Homo sapiens: one gene and its partner. Each later gene encodes a partner of the first gene's protein in a complex. Each region holds a gene or a part of one and is shown on either strand. Other genes may lie near its edges.

The links. Proteins that work in one complex are often made in the same cells at the same time.
Region 2: MED13 (region 1) and MED20 share a complex: the UniProt entries of both Homo sapiens proteins name them as parts of the mediator complex.

Annotation. Positions count from the first base shown.
Region 1 is NC_000017.11:61,978,273-61,985,296, reverse strand, and holds part of MED13 (mediator of RNA polymerase II transcription subunit 13), read left to right. Parts: intron 1-206; coding exon 207-297; intron 298-431; coding exon 432-646; intron 647-929; coding exon 930-1,126; intron 1,127-2,182; coding exon 2,183-3,099; intron 3,100-7,024. UniProt on the Homo sapiens protein: Component of the Mediator complex, a coactivator involved in the regulated transcription of nearly all RNA polymerase II-dependent genes.
Region 2 is NC_000006.12:41,918,130-41,925,670, forward strand, and holds the start of MED20 (mediator of RNA polymerase II transcription subunit 20), read right to left. Parts: upstream 3,011-7,541; 5' UTR 2,890-3,010; coding exon 2,876-2,889; intron 2,815-2,875; exon of another isoform or gene 2,671-2,814; intron 1-2,670. Other genes in the region: BYSL (bystin), read left to right, coding at 3,434-3,701. UniProt on the Homo sapiens protein: Component of the Mediator complex, a coactivator involved in the regulated transcription of nearly all RNA polymerase II-dependent genes.

The DNA.
Region 1 (7,024 bases):
GGAGGCTTACCAAATAAATTAATCTGGAGTCAGTGATTAAGAAATATTTTATATCTTTCAACACTAGTATGTATTTGGCTGTATCACAGATTCAAAATACTACTTTTAATGAATGGGCTTTACTGTTAAGTTATATCTGAATGATTACTATTTTGAGATCACATTGGATGTAAAATTTTAGATAAATATGTGCTTTTTTTAAATAGCCTGGATCTAAAAAATCAGCAAATGGATCAGATGATAAAGCCAGCTGCAAGGAATCAAAGACAGGAAATCTGGACCCGTTATCTTGCATAAGTAAGCTTCCCTCATCTGTGCTCGAGATAAATTTGCGAACTTTTAATCTCAACAAAGCTCCCCACTCCTTTTGGTTTAAACACAGATTCGCCTATTTTTAGTCATGTTAAAATGTATGTTTTTATTAAATATAGGCACTGCAGATCTTCATAAAATGTATCCTACACCACCATCATTGGAACAACATATTATGGGATTTTCCCCAATGAATATGAATAATAAAGAATATGGTAGTATGGATACAACACCTGGAGGAACTGTTCTAGAAGGAAATAGTTCTAGTATAGGAGCGCAGTTCAAAATTGAGGTTGATGAGGGATTCTGTAGCCCCAAACCTTCTGAAATTAAAGTAAGTATGTTTTTTCTAGAAAAATAATTCACTTCCTATATTTTCTTATAGAATTAATTTGTTGCTATAGTCAAAAATTATTTTATAGTGGTTGCGGTTTTGTAGCTAAGTTGAGGACTGAATTATTGTTGTCACTATTAAGAATGCATTTAAGAAAATAATAGAATTGTATTTAGATTTTATTCTGTTTAAAGAAAGGAAAAAAGGTCCAGAGCCTGTTTGTTTATTTATTTTTTCCTCCTAGAAGATAAGATACTGAAAACCTACCATCTTTATATTGTAGGATTTTTCTTATGTCTATAAGCCTGAAAATTGTCAAATTCTAGTGGGATGTTCCATGTTTGCACCTCTAAAAACTCTACCAAGCCAATATCTGCCCCCTATCAAATTGCCAGAAGAGTGTATTTACCGTCAGAGTTGGACTGTTGGAAAATTGGAATTGCTTTCTTCAGGGCCTTCAATGCCATTCATCAAAGAGGGGTATGATTTATGTTGTTACAATAGTATGTGACTGCTTATACAGCTTTAATTTTTTTTTCATAGATTTACCTGGTATGCTGGAAAAATAAAATTGGTTTTTGAAAATTCTAAAAATTATTTCTGGTTAATCAATTATAGTGATTGGCTGGGAGCAGTGAATCACGCCTGTAATTCCCATACTTTGGGAGGCCAAGGCAGGCGTATCCCTTGAGGTCAGGAGTTTGAGATCAGCCTGGCCAACATACGAAACCTCGTCTCTACTAAAAATACAAAAATTAGCCAAGCGTGGTGGCGCATGCTTGTAGTCCCAGCTACTTGGGAGGCTGAGGCACAAGAATGGCTTGAACCTGGGAGTCAGGCATTGCAGGGAGCCGAGATCGCACCAGTGCACTCCAGCCTGGGCAAGAGTGAGACTTTGTCTCAAAAAAAAAAAAAAAAAGGTTAATTGGGTATGGATAAACTATTAGGAAACTTAAGACTATTATGCTTGATTTGTATTCCGAAGCACCTTTTCTTTTGGGCTGCAATTTTAAATTGCTCCCATTTTTACATTTGCCATCTTTTCCACACTTTTCACATTTTAACATCTCTGACTTGGTCAGTTTCAACTCAAGGCTAAAAGAAATCTGAATCTGAGATGTCTTATAAGTGGTAGCATTTTAAAATTACCATTTTTCCCTTTTTACACATGAGCATCTCTAAAATCATTTTTCTTTTTTTATAGTCAGTAGCATCTTAGAATCAAGGAAATATAAGTATTTCTAGTAAACAAAATTTATAGATAGTAAATATGGATGTCTAGGTATGCATTAGTGTATAGAGTGCTTATTAATGATTTTTGAACTTGTTAATTGATCCTTAGTCAACAACAATCACTTAGAGTAGATATGTTAACCAGAAATAAGAATTGACTGTGCTTGTAATTCTTGCAATACTTGTCCTTTCATAATTTTCTATGTAATTGAAAAACATTTGGGACGTTTTTAGTTGTATTTCACATTACTAATATGTTCCTTTATATATATATTTGATCTTCTTTTACCCTGGTGATGATAGTGATGGAAGTAATATGGATCAAGAATATGGCACTGCTTATACACCTCAAACTCATACTTCTTTTGGGATGCCTCCTAGCAGTGCACCTCCTAGTAACAGCGGAGCAGGAATTCTTCCTTCTCCATCCACCCCTCGGTTTCCAACTCCAAGGACTCCAAGGACTCCTCGGACTCCTCGTGGAGCTGGTGGACCTGCTAGTGCTCAAGGTTCAGTCAAATATGAAAATTCAGACTTGTATTCACCAGCTTCTACCCCATCTACATGCAGACCCCTTAATTCTGTTGAACCTGCAACTGTCCCTTCCATCCCTGAAGCACACAGTCTTTATGTAAACCTCATCCTTTCAGAATCAGTTATGAATTTGTTTAAAGACTGTAACTTTGATAGTTGTTGCATCTGTGTTTGCAACATGAACATCAAGGGTGCCGATGTTGGAGTTTACATTCCAGATCCAACGCAGGAAGCACAATATAGGTGTACCTGTGGCTTCAGTGCTGTCATGAACAGAAAATTTGGAAACAATTCAGGATTATTTCTTGAAGATGAACTAGATATCATAGGACGCAATACAGACTGTGGCAAAGAAGCAGAAAAACGTTTTGAAGCTCTCAGGGCTACCTCTGCTGAACATGTTAATGGAGGACTAAAGGAATCTGAAAAATTATCTGATGATTTGATATTATTGCTACAAGATCAGTGCACTAATTTATTTTCACCCTTTGGAGCAGCAGACCAAGATCCTTTTCCTAAAAGTGGTGTAATTAGCAATTGGGTACGTGTTGAAGAGCGTGACTGTTGCAATGACTGCTACCTTGCATTAGAACATGGGCGTCAGTTCATGGATAACATGTCAGGAGGAAAAGTTGATGAAGCACTTGTGAAAAGTTCATGCTTACACCCCTGGTCCAAAAGAAACGGTAAAGTATGCCAATAAAATACTTTTTTGTTTGCTTATTTCCCTTTAGTTACATTCTTAGGAAAAAGTAATAAAGGCAGTTTCCCATGTGGCAAATACATTTAAAGTTGGACTTAAAACTCTTTATGGATGATGTTTTTAAAGGGAGAATTTCTTAGCAGTTTAGTTTAATTTCACCAATAAAAGTATGGTTATTATAAATCTGTAATTATATACTTATGTAGGAATATGAAAGGCACATTCCATATATTTATTAGCATAACATTGCTAGTGGTCTGCTTTATTCAACATTCTTTCACTCATTAAGTATTTACTGGGCACCTTGTATGTGCCAGGTATTAGCCTAGATTCACTGTTGAACAAAGCACACATATTCTTTGCCCTTTTTGAATCTATAATTTAGTGGAGAAAATAGGAAATAAACAAAAAAGCATATAATAGATAGTAAGAAGTAATTTGGAGGAAAAGCAGAGTAAAACAGAACAAGACACCACATATGTACTATTTTAGATGTATGGTCAGATAAGATACTACTGAGGAGATAGCATATGGGAAAACTCCTACATAACATAGAATATGAGCTATGTAGTTAAATGAGGGAAGAGTGTTTCAGGCAGTGCAAAGACCCTGAGGGAGTATTTTGCTTTTACATGTTTGAGGAACATTAAGGTGACTGATGCTGCTGGAATGCTTTGTGTGATAGGGAGACTGGAAGGAGATGAAATTTAGGAGGTAGCCATTCACCAGCATCATTTAGAGTCTTATAGACCATGTAAGGCCTTTGTGGTTTATACTAAATGTGATGGGAAGCTATTGAACAGTTTTGACAAGGAAAGTAACATGATCCTTATTCTGATTGTTTTTTAAGAGATCTCTCAGTCTGGCACAGTGGCTCATGCCTGTAATCCCAGCACTTTGGGAGGCTGAGGTAGGCAGGTCACCTGAGGTCAGGAGTTCGAGACCTGCCTGACCAACATAGTGAAATCCCGTCTTTACTAAAAATTTAAAATTAGCTGGGCTTGGTGGTGGGCGCCTATAATCCCAGCTACTCGGGAGGCTAAGGCAGGATAATTACTTGAACCTGGGAGGCGGAAGTTGCAGTGAGCCAAGATCGCACTACTGCACTCCAGCCTGGGCAACAGGAGTGAAACTCCCATCTAAAAGAAAAAAAAAATGGCTGGGTGCGGTGGCTCATGCGTCTAATCCCAGCACTTTGGGAGACTGAGGTGGGCAGATCATGAGGCCAGGAGTTTGAGACCAGCCTGCCCAATATGGTGAAAAATACAAAAATTAGCCAGCATGGTGGGGCGTGCCTGTGGTCCCAGCTGCTCAGGAGGCCAAGGCAGAGGAGTTGCTTGAACCTGGGGGGCGGAGGTTGTGTTGAGCTGAGATAATGCCACTGCACTCCAGCCTGGGCAACAGAGCAAGACACTCTGTTGCTATTGTGTGGAAAATAGCGTTGGGGTTTGGAAGTAGTGAAAGTGAGAACAGAAGCAGGATAAATCAGTTGGAAGGCAGTTTCAGTAGCTTAGGTGAAAGATGATGGTAGCTTAGACAAGATAAGAGGCCAGCGAGATGTAAGTAATAGGTTTTAGGTTATTTGGGAAATAGAACCTACAGGGTTTGCCAAAAGACGTGTAAGGAAAGATGAGGCATCAATAATAGCTTGAGCACCTGGGTGAATGGTAGTACTAACTACAGAGGAGGGAAACACGGGGGAGTAAATCAGATACACATTTGGAGATAATATGTTTTAAATTCAGAGGAATGATTGGGTCTGGAGATAGAAAAATTTTGTGTGTGAGTTATTATGAAAAGCTGTGGATCTGGATGAAATAAACTGTAGAGTAATTGTAGATAGAGTAGTACAAGGATGGAGCTGACATTTATAAGTGGGGAGGGAGAAAAGGCACCAGGAAAGGAAATTGAGAAGGAGGTTGGAGGAAAACCAAGGGAGCATGGTATCCTAGAAATCAGGTATAGGGAATTTTTGTTTGTTTGTTTTTGTTTTGAGACAGAGTCTCGCTCTGTCACCAGGCTGGAGTGCAGTGGCGTGATCTCGGCCCACTGCAACCTCCACCTCCCGGGTTCAAGCAATTCTCCTGCCTCAGCCTCCCAAGTGGCTGGGACTACAGGTGCACGCCACCACACCCGGCTAATTTTTTGTATTTTAGTAGAGACGAGGTTTCACTGTGTTGCCCAGGCTGGTCTCGAACTCCTGAGCTCAGGCAATCCACCTGCCTCGGCCTCCCAAAGTGCTGGGATTACAGGTGTGAGCCACCGTGCCTGGCCCGGGAATATTTAGAAGAGAGTGATCATCTCTATCAAATACTTCGATACATTAAGGTGAAAACTGAGACAGGCTATTGGATGTGACCAAATAGAAGTTGGTGGTCACCTTGATAGGCAGTTTCAGTCAATCTGATTGGAGTGGGTTCACAAAAGAACGGGATGAGAAGCAAACTTAGACAATTTTCTGGGGACTTTTGCTGTAAATAGCAGAGAAATTGCATAATAGGGTTAAAAGAGAGGTTTATTATTATTTTATTAAAGGTGCATTGGGAGTGATCCTATAGAAAGGAATTTTTTTTAATTGACAGATATGGCTTATGGCTGTAATCCCAGCATTTGGGAGGCTGAGGCAGGCAGATCATTTGAGCCCAGGAGTTCAAGACCAGCCTGGTGAACATGGCAAAACCCATCTCTACTAAAAATACAAAAATTAGCTGGGTGTGGTAGCATGCACCTGTAGTCTCAGCTACTTGGGAGGCTGAGGTGGGAGTATAGCTTGAACCTAGGAGGTGGAGGATTCGGTGAACCATGATTGTACCACTGCACTCCAGCCTATTTGACAGAGTGAGATTTTTCTCAAAAAGAAAAAAATGGCCATGTTTGCAGGGTTGAGTAATCATGATAGTACAGATGGAATGTTATATGGCTTCTGAAAATGAATTACAGTTATGTATAACAAATAGATGAATCTTAGTGATACTATTGAGGAGAGGAAGAGGGAACAAGTCCCAGAAGATTACATATAGTCAGATACCCTTTAAAAATACCTCTTTAATGTATTACCGTTAATAAAGTTTTGAAACAAGCACAACTAAATGTATTATTTACATGCACATAAAATTGAGAATATTGGTTAATTCTTGAAATTTCACATGTGTCCAAAAATGACCAAGAGATAGGGATAGGGAGAAACATTTAATAAGATCGTTTTTGGTAATGTTCTAGTTCTTGGGCAGTGAGATTACAGTTGTTCATTTTATTATTAAAGAAAATTTTTGAAATGTAAGAGGACAACACATGGACCAGTGATTAAGTTCATGTATATGACAGTATCAGCATTTATCCAATTATTCATTCTCAGGGACCAAATTTAAAAAGGGAAAGACACAAATAAATATCATAGGTATTCAAAAAAAAGGAAAGATTATTTTAAGCCATATAGAGTAGTTAAGATCATAGGCTGTGGACTCAGACTGCCTGGGTTTGAAACATGACTCTAGCACTATATACTACCATGACTCTAGCACTATATACTACCTGCTACCTTGGGCCAAGTTAGTTAACCTTTCTGTGCCTTGATTTCTTAAAATAGGGTCAATAATAGATTTACTTTACAGGGTATTGAGAGAATCAAATGAAATACAGAGCAGTTGATCCGCCCACCTTGGCCCCCCACAAAGTGCTGGGATTCCAGGCATGAGCCACCCAGGAGTTTGAGACCAGCCTGACCAACCTAGTGAAACCCCATCTCTACTAAAAATACAAAAATTAGCTGGGCATGGTGGCGCATGCCTATAATCCCAGCTACTCGGGAGGCTAAGGCAGGAGAATTGCTTGACCCCATGAGGTGGATATTGCAGTGAGCCCGAGATCCTGCCATTGTACTCCAGCCCAGGCGACAAGAGTGAAACTCG
Region 2 (7,541 bases), on another chromosome or scaffold:
ATCCTAAGGCCTTTAGATGAATTAACTCTCCAAATCCTCACGATAGTCCTATGAAGGTGTGTTATTTATCAACTTGTTACAAATGAGGAAACTGCCGGGCATGGTGGCTCACGCCTGTAATCCCAGCACTTTGGGAGGCCGAGGTGGGCGGATCACTTGAGGTCAGGAGTTCGAGACCAGCCTAGCCAACATGGTGAAACCCTGTCTCTACCAAAAATACAAAACTTAGCCAGGCATGGTGGTGTGCGCCTGTAATCCCAGCTACATGGGAGGCTGAGGCAGGAGAATCACTTGAAACCAGGAGGCGGAGGTTGCAGTGAGCCAAGATCGCACCACTGCCCTCCAGCCTGGACAACAAGAGCGAAACTCCATCTCAAAAAGAAAAAAAAAAAGACGAAACTTGGCCAGGCACGGTGGCTCACGCCTGTAATCCCAGCACTTTGGGAGGCCAAGGCGGGCAGATCACGAGGTCAGGAGATCAAGACCATCCTGGCTAACACGGTGAAACCCCGTCTCTACCAAAAATACAAAAAAATGGCCGGGCGCGGTGGCTCACGCCTGTAATCCCAGCACTTTGGGAGGCCGAGGCGGGTGGATCATGAGGTCAGGAGATCGAGACCATCCTGGCTAACAAGGTGAAACCCCGTCTCTACTAAAAATACAAAAAATTAGCCGGGCGCGGTGGCGGGCGCCTGTAGTCCCAGCTACTCGGGAGGCTGAGGCAGGAGAATGGCGTGAACCCGGGAAGCGGAGCTTGCAGTGAGCCGAGATTGCGCCACTGCAGTCCGCAGTCCGGCCTGGGCGACAGAGCGAGACTCCGTCTCAAAAAAAAAAAAAAAATACAAAAAAATTAGCCAGGCATGGTGGTGGGCGCCTGTAGTCCCAGCTACTCGGGAGGCTGAGGCAGGAGAATGGCATGAACCCGGGAGGCGGAGCTTGCAGTGAGCCGAGATCACGCCACTGCACTCCAGCCTGGGCAACAGAGTGAGACTCTGCCTCAAAAAAAAAAAAAAAAAAAAAAAAGAGGAAACTTAAGTACAGCACAAAGAGGTTAAATAACTTGCACTAGGTCACACAGTTAATGGGTGGTACACTCAAGACTCAAAGCCCAGCAACCTGGCTTGATGTCCATGCTCTTAACCACTAACTAGACTGCCTGTATAAGGATGTAGTGCCTGTTAAAACATTAAGGAAAATCGATTAAAAAATTAATAAACAATAGTACAAGCAGTACTTAGCTATATAGAAATCAAGAAAACAGTCATAGATGACATTGCTTTATGATCAACTAAATGAATCTATTAAGGTAGAGTCCTTCTGTTGCTAAAAATTGTCACTACTCTATCAGAAAAAAACACTGATAAACGATGTTGCTAATGTGCCTTATTTTGAAATACAAAAGAATCCCTAAACTGACGCTACAAGTGACAGAAGTCCTAGGATTCTGAAAACGTTGATAAGGGGGCCAACAGAGAGCCCTTTCCCTGGAGCTGCCTTCTCCATTTAAAGAGCAGGGGTGGCTGGGCACGGTGGCTCATGTCTATAATGCCAATACTTTGGGAGACCAAAGCAGGAGGCTCGCTTGAGTTCAGGAATTCAAGACCTGCATGTACAAAACAGCAAGACCCCATTTCTATTTCTTTAAAAAAAAGAAAGAGCAAGGGTTCCAGGGTTCTACGCTGCATCCTTTCCATTTCCATTCCTCACATATCTTGCTTCCATTAAGGAACACAGGAGGATCGTGTCAATCGTAGGAAGCAAGAGTGCAATCACTGAGAAACCTGCAAGAACCTGGGCTACCAGGAGGAAAAGTATTTCCCCTACACATGCTTTTGTATGAGAAGCCTATATCCACTGGCTTCAAATATCCTGGCCTCCGGATTTCTCCCACGGGAAAAATGCTCACATCTACTGAGATAAGAAAAAAATGTTCTGGGACCTGGCACCTTACAACTAACGCCTCCACGAGCACTGGACCCATACCTTTCCCTGCCACCTCATCTTCTTTCAACTGAGACTTAAAACATATGAAAGATAAAAACTCCATTGAAACTAGACCAACCATGGAATTAAACATAGTGGGAAACGGGTCCTAAAGAGATAAAGTGCCTGGAACCATGATCTCCTTATTATCAATACCCTTTTTTCCTCTAGACCCAAGATCTTAAAATGAGCAAATTAGAAACAGACACAAGCGGGTCTAACTGTATTTGATGGCTGAGGGAAGAGCAGGCGAAAATCTTAAAAAATACTATCTCCTGATTGCTTATGGCCCACTCCCTCCAACCCTGTCTGCAGGTGGGTCATAGTCCAAAGACCCTATTTCCAACCCTGAGGTCCCACTGCAGGCAGTACTATGGCCTCACGGGAAGGAAGATGTATCCAGAAGAGAATGAGGTATACAACCATTGATAGGTTCCTGGGATAAAAAGTTTGCTTTGTCGACACCAGCGTGGCCAATATGGTGAAACCCCATTTCTACTAAAAATACAAAAAGTAACCGGGCGTGGTGGCGGGCGCCTGTAGTCCCAGCTACTCGGGACTACAGGAGAATCGCTTGAACCCAAGAGGCGGAGTGTTGCAGTGAGCCAAGATCGCTCCACTGCACTCCAGTCTGGCGACAGAGCGAGACCCCGTCTTAAAAAAAACAAAACAAAACAAAAAAAAAACCTTTGCTTTCCCGCCTTCCAAGAGGAAGGGGCGCATCTCTGAGGAAACAAGCCCGGGGAACCCGCAGCCCGGACGGCATCCTCTCATCTACACAACCCGAGGACATCTCCCTCAGCTCCCAGAGGACGGCGGACCATGGTCAAGGTCCTCTTTCCGGCCTTTCACAACTCCAAGCCCCGCCCCACAAAACCCCCTGCAGTCCTACCAAGTCACTCCCATGGCGTCGGGCCAGGAAGGTGGCAGAATCACACAGTAGAAACGCAGGGTTCCCTGTCCGCCCACAGAAACTCCTTCAGTTCCCCAACACAACCTTCTGTCTCAGAAGGGACTCCGGAAATACGTAAAAACAGAGCGCCGGGTCCACGCCTTCCCCAAGGAATGGGGCGTGTCTCGGCACCCCTCGGTGACGCCTCCACTGACATCATCTGCGGATTCCCGCCCCGAGGTTTCTAAATCCAGACATTCCCGTTTGGCTGAGCACTCTAGGCCTACATCCATGAAGCTAGGAGAGCGACACTCAAAGACTGCACTATTGAGAGAAGCTAACGTTAAAGGCAGTGAATATATTCGGGAGTCCAGCTCCGGAACCCGGGAGCTCTTTTAGTGGGAGGGGCGGCGCTGATGGCGCTTCTGGCCTCCGAATGCTAGGGGGCGCTGTGATCGCCGGGCGGCCTCTTGGGCGCTGGGAGTCCACCGCGCAAGCGCATCCTGGCCTTTCTTCAGTCCCCACGTGCGATCCTTCCCGGCAACTTTTTCGAGAAAAATGCCCAAATTCAAGGCGGCCCGTGGGGTGGGGGGTCAGGAAAAACATGCGCCCCTGGCCGATCAGATCCTGGCTGGGAATGCGGTGCGGGCGGGGGTCCGGGAGAAGCGGCGGGGTCGCGGGACAGGAGAAGCGGAGGAAGAGTATGTGGGGCCCCGGCTGAGCCGACGGATTTTGCAGCAAGCACGGCAGCAACAGGAGGAACTCGAGGCCGAGCATGGGACTGGGGACAAGCCCGCGGCGCCGCGGGAACGCACCACGCGGCTGGGTGAGTGTCTGGGATGAGGTCCGAGGAAGACAGTGGCCAGTAGTGGGGCGGGGTGGGCAGCTAAAAAGTGTCTGGCAGGGGAATTGCTTCGAGTCAACAAAGGGGTCCGTATTACACTTGCAAAGGAGACTGAACCCTGTCTAGAGCCCTCCGCGTCCACTCCTAGTTTTAGGCACTCCCTTCTAGACACCCCCGAAGTTAGGCCAACAGTAATCGATCGCGCCACTAAGTGCTCCTAGCATGTATCCATTGGTTTTGTAAATATTTATGGGATACCCACTACGAGCTTTGCGCTATGCTCGGAATTCTATCGAATGTTTGGGTACAGAAGTAAACAACACAGGCACGTCTAACTTAAGGACCTTACAGTCAAGCCCAGCAGAGAGGCAATTAAGTAGACTCTTAGAATAATATATTTCCATGATAAAGTATCGTTTCCCTGGTAACAATAGCATTGGTCTTGAGAAGCTTCTCCGATTGCAGCAGGACCTTTAAGCTGAGAACTGAAAAACGAATGGGAAGTGTTATGAGCAGAAAACACATTGTTTAGCAGCCAAAGAGCGAGAGAGATGAATTGAAAGACGTCTGATGTTTTCTCACTAGGGAGGGAGTGTTGACCTCTGAGGTGCTTCATCCGTTTCTCAGATCTCATCTAAAGCAATATTTGACACAATTGAATAGTGGCCTTCTGGCCACAGTATCCTTACTTGGGTTCTAAGACATCAACACTCCTGTTTTACTGCCACCTCACTTCTCAGTATCCTTGGCTGACTCTTATTGCAACCTCTTCTCCTCAGTCCTCTGACCTCTTCAAATATTCTCTGGTGCTGGCAAGTTTCATGGTTTAAATACCATCCTTGAGTGACTACTCCTAACTTTATAGTCTAGCCCTGATCTCTTCCATGAAATCCAGATTCTTATATTCAACTGCCTATTTGGCATCTCCAATTTGAAATCTAACAGACAGCTCAAATTTAACATGTACAAAACAGAAATCCTGACCTTCCCTCCAAACCTGCTTCTCTCACCATTGCCTTCCCTGTCTCAGTTAGTAGCATATTCTTTCATTTGCTCGAGATAAACTTTAGACTCCTCTCTCTCCCTGCCCCCACCATCTCCTCTCTCTGTCTCTCCCTCCCCACATCTGATCTGTAAGGAAATTCTGATGACTTTGCCTTCAAAGTGTATCCAAAATGAGACCACTTTTCACCGCTTTGGAACACCATCCTGTCGTAGCCACCACAGTCTCTCACCTGGATTATCACAGTAGCCTCCTCGTTAGTATCTCATATTCTCCGTTTTTTCTTTTTTTCTTTTTTTTTTGAGACAGAGTCTCTCTCTCTCTCTGTCACCCAGGATAGAGTGCGGTGGCACAATCATAGCTAACTGCAGCCTCAATCTCCTGGGCTCCAGTCGTCTTTCCACCTCAGCCTCCCACGTAGCTGGGACCACAGGTGTGTGCCACCATGTCCAACTAATTCTTTTTTTTTTTTTTTGAGCCTGTCGCCCAGGCTGTAGTGCAGTGGCGCAATCTTGGCTCACTGCAACCTCTGCCACCTAGGTCCAAGCAATTCTTCTGCCTCAGCCTTCTGAGTAGCTGAGATTACAGGCGTGAGCCATCACATCCAGTTAATTTTTGTATTTTCAGTAGAGATGGGGTTTCACCATGTTGGCCAGACTGGTCTTGAACTCCTGACTTCAGGTCATCGTCCACCTCTGCCTCCCAAAATGCTGGGATTACAGGCGTGAGCCACCGCACCTGGCCGCTAATTATTTAATTATTTGTAGAGATGAGGTCTCACAGTGGTGCCCAGTTTGGTCTCAAACTCCTGGGCTCAAACGACCCTCCCTGCCTTGGCCTCCCAAAGTGCTGGGATTACAGGTGTGAGCTACTGCACCCTGCCGTGTCTCATACTCTCTACAAAGTACTCACAGGTGGGGGATTACAATGGTCTACAATGCACTATATGATCTGCCTCCTTTGCCAGTCTGACCTCTTCTACTGCTTTCCTCTTTGCCCATTCCACTCCACCTATTTAGGCTTCATTGTGCCTTAAACGTGGGAAATTAGGGGGTTTGGCCTGGTTGTTCCTTCTCTCTGGGATAGTTTGTTCTCATACACTTGTAGGGTTACTTTCTCAGAGAGGCCTATCCACTCCATTTAAGATTGCAGCACTCTACTCCATCTCCATACTCCCAGCATTTCTGCCCTATCTTTTTTTCATAGTACTTATCTTTTTTTTTTTTTTGAGACAGAGTCTCGCTCCGTCACCCAGGCTGAGTGCAATACCACGATCTCGGCTCACTGCAACCTCCACCTCCCGGGTTCAAGCGATTCTCCTGCCTCAGCCTCCCAAGTAGCTGGGATTACAGGCGCCCGCCACCACACCCAGCTAATTTTTTTTTTTTTTGTATTTTTAGTAGAGTTGGGGATTTCGCTATGTTGGCCAGCCTGGTCTCAAACTCCTGACCTCAGGTGATCCACCCGCCTCGGCCTCCCGAAGTGCTGGGATTACAGGCATGAGCCACTGCACCCAGCCCATAGTACTTATCTTTTAACCCAATATATTTATATGTTTATTTATGTCTGTCTCTTCCATTTAGACAGGATTGGGTGCGTTCAGGGTGGTATGGTCGTAGACTATCTCCTCCAATTAGAATGTAAGCTGTATAGAACAAAGTCTTTTGGTTTCGGTTGTTCGTGGATATATTGCCAGCACCCCGAACAGTGCCTCACATATAGTAGGTGCTTGGTGTTTGCTGAATGACTGGGTTAATCGGTAATGAATGATGGTCAGGTAGGTGGGAGCCAAGCCTACAAAAGATTTTAAAACCATCCTAACAGCAGTGGGAAGAATGGGAAGCTACTGGAGAATTTTAAGGACAGGGCTGATCAAATCAAATATGTGTTTCTGGAAGGTGACCGTCTGCAGAGTGGAAAATGAGTTGGAGGGAAGCAAGGTCAGAAACATAGAGACCAGTGGGCGACTGTTGAATAAATCCAGGCAAGAGATGATGCTGATCTAGGCTTAGATGGGGCTGTGAAGCATGTGAGAGACAGTCTATGAGGTAAAATTGAATATGATTTAGTAATTGATTGGGTGTTGAGGGTGAGGGCAGGGGATGAGGCAAGAGTACCTCCCAGGCTTAGCATTGGGTGGACGATGGTGCCGTTTACTGAGCTGTGGATGGTTAGCAGTGTAGACCTAGGAGGGAAAGAAAATTAGTTTAGTTGATAACGGGTGAGATTTGAGGTGCCTGTGAGTCATCCAAGAGCAGCTTACAGGAGACACCTGGAGTTAGGGTCTGGCACTAAGGAGAACCACCTACAAAGTACAAATTTGGGGGACCGTTGGAACGTGGAGACAAAATGTCTGTTCCCCCTTATTTAGTGTTTATCACACACTGCCTTTGTTGTTAATGACCTATTGATACGTAGCATTATAGCTCCCCACTTGGATTATTAGACCCCTTTCCAGATGCCCAGACATGTAGCCTTCCAAAAACAGAAGTTATTTAAATGGACTAACTTCATTTTTTTTTTTTTTTTTAAGACGGAGTCTCGCTCTGTCGCCCAGGCTGGAGTGCAGTGGCACGATCTTGGCTCACTGCAAGCTCCGCCTCCCGGGTTCACACCATTCTCCTGCCTCAGCCTCCCGAGTAGCTGGGACTACAGGCGCCCGCCACCACACCCGGCTAATTTTTTGTATTTTTAGTAGAGACGGGGTTTCACCGTGTTAGCCAGGATGGTCTCGGTCTCCTGACCTCGTGATCCGCCCGCCTTGGCCTCTCTAAGTGCTGGGATTACAGGCGTGAGCCACCGCGCCCGGCCTATTTATT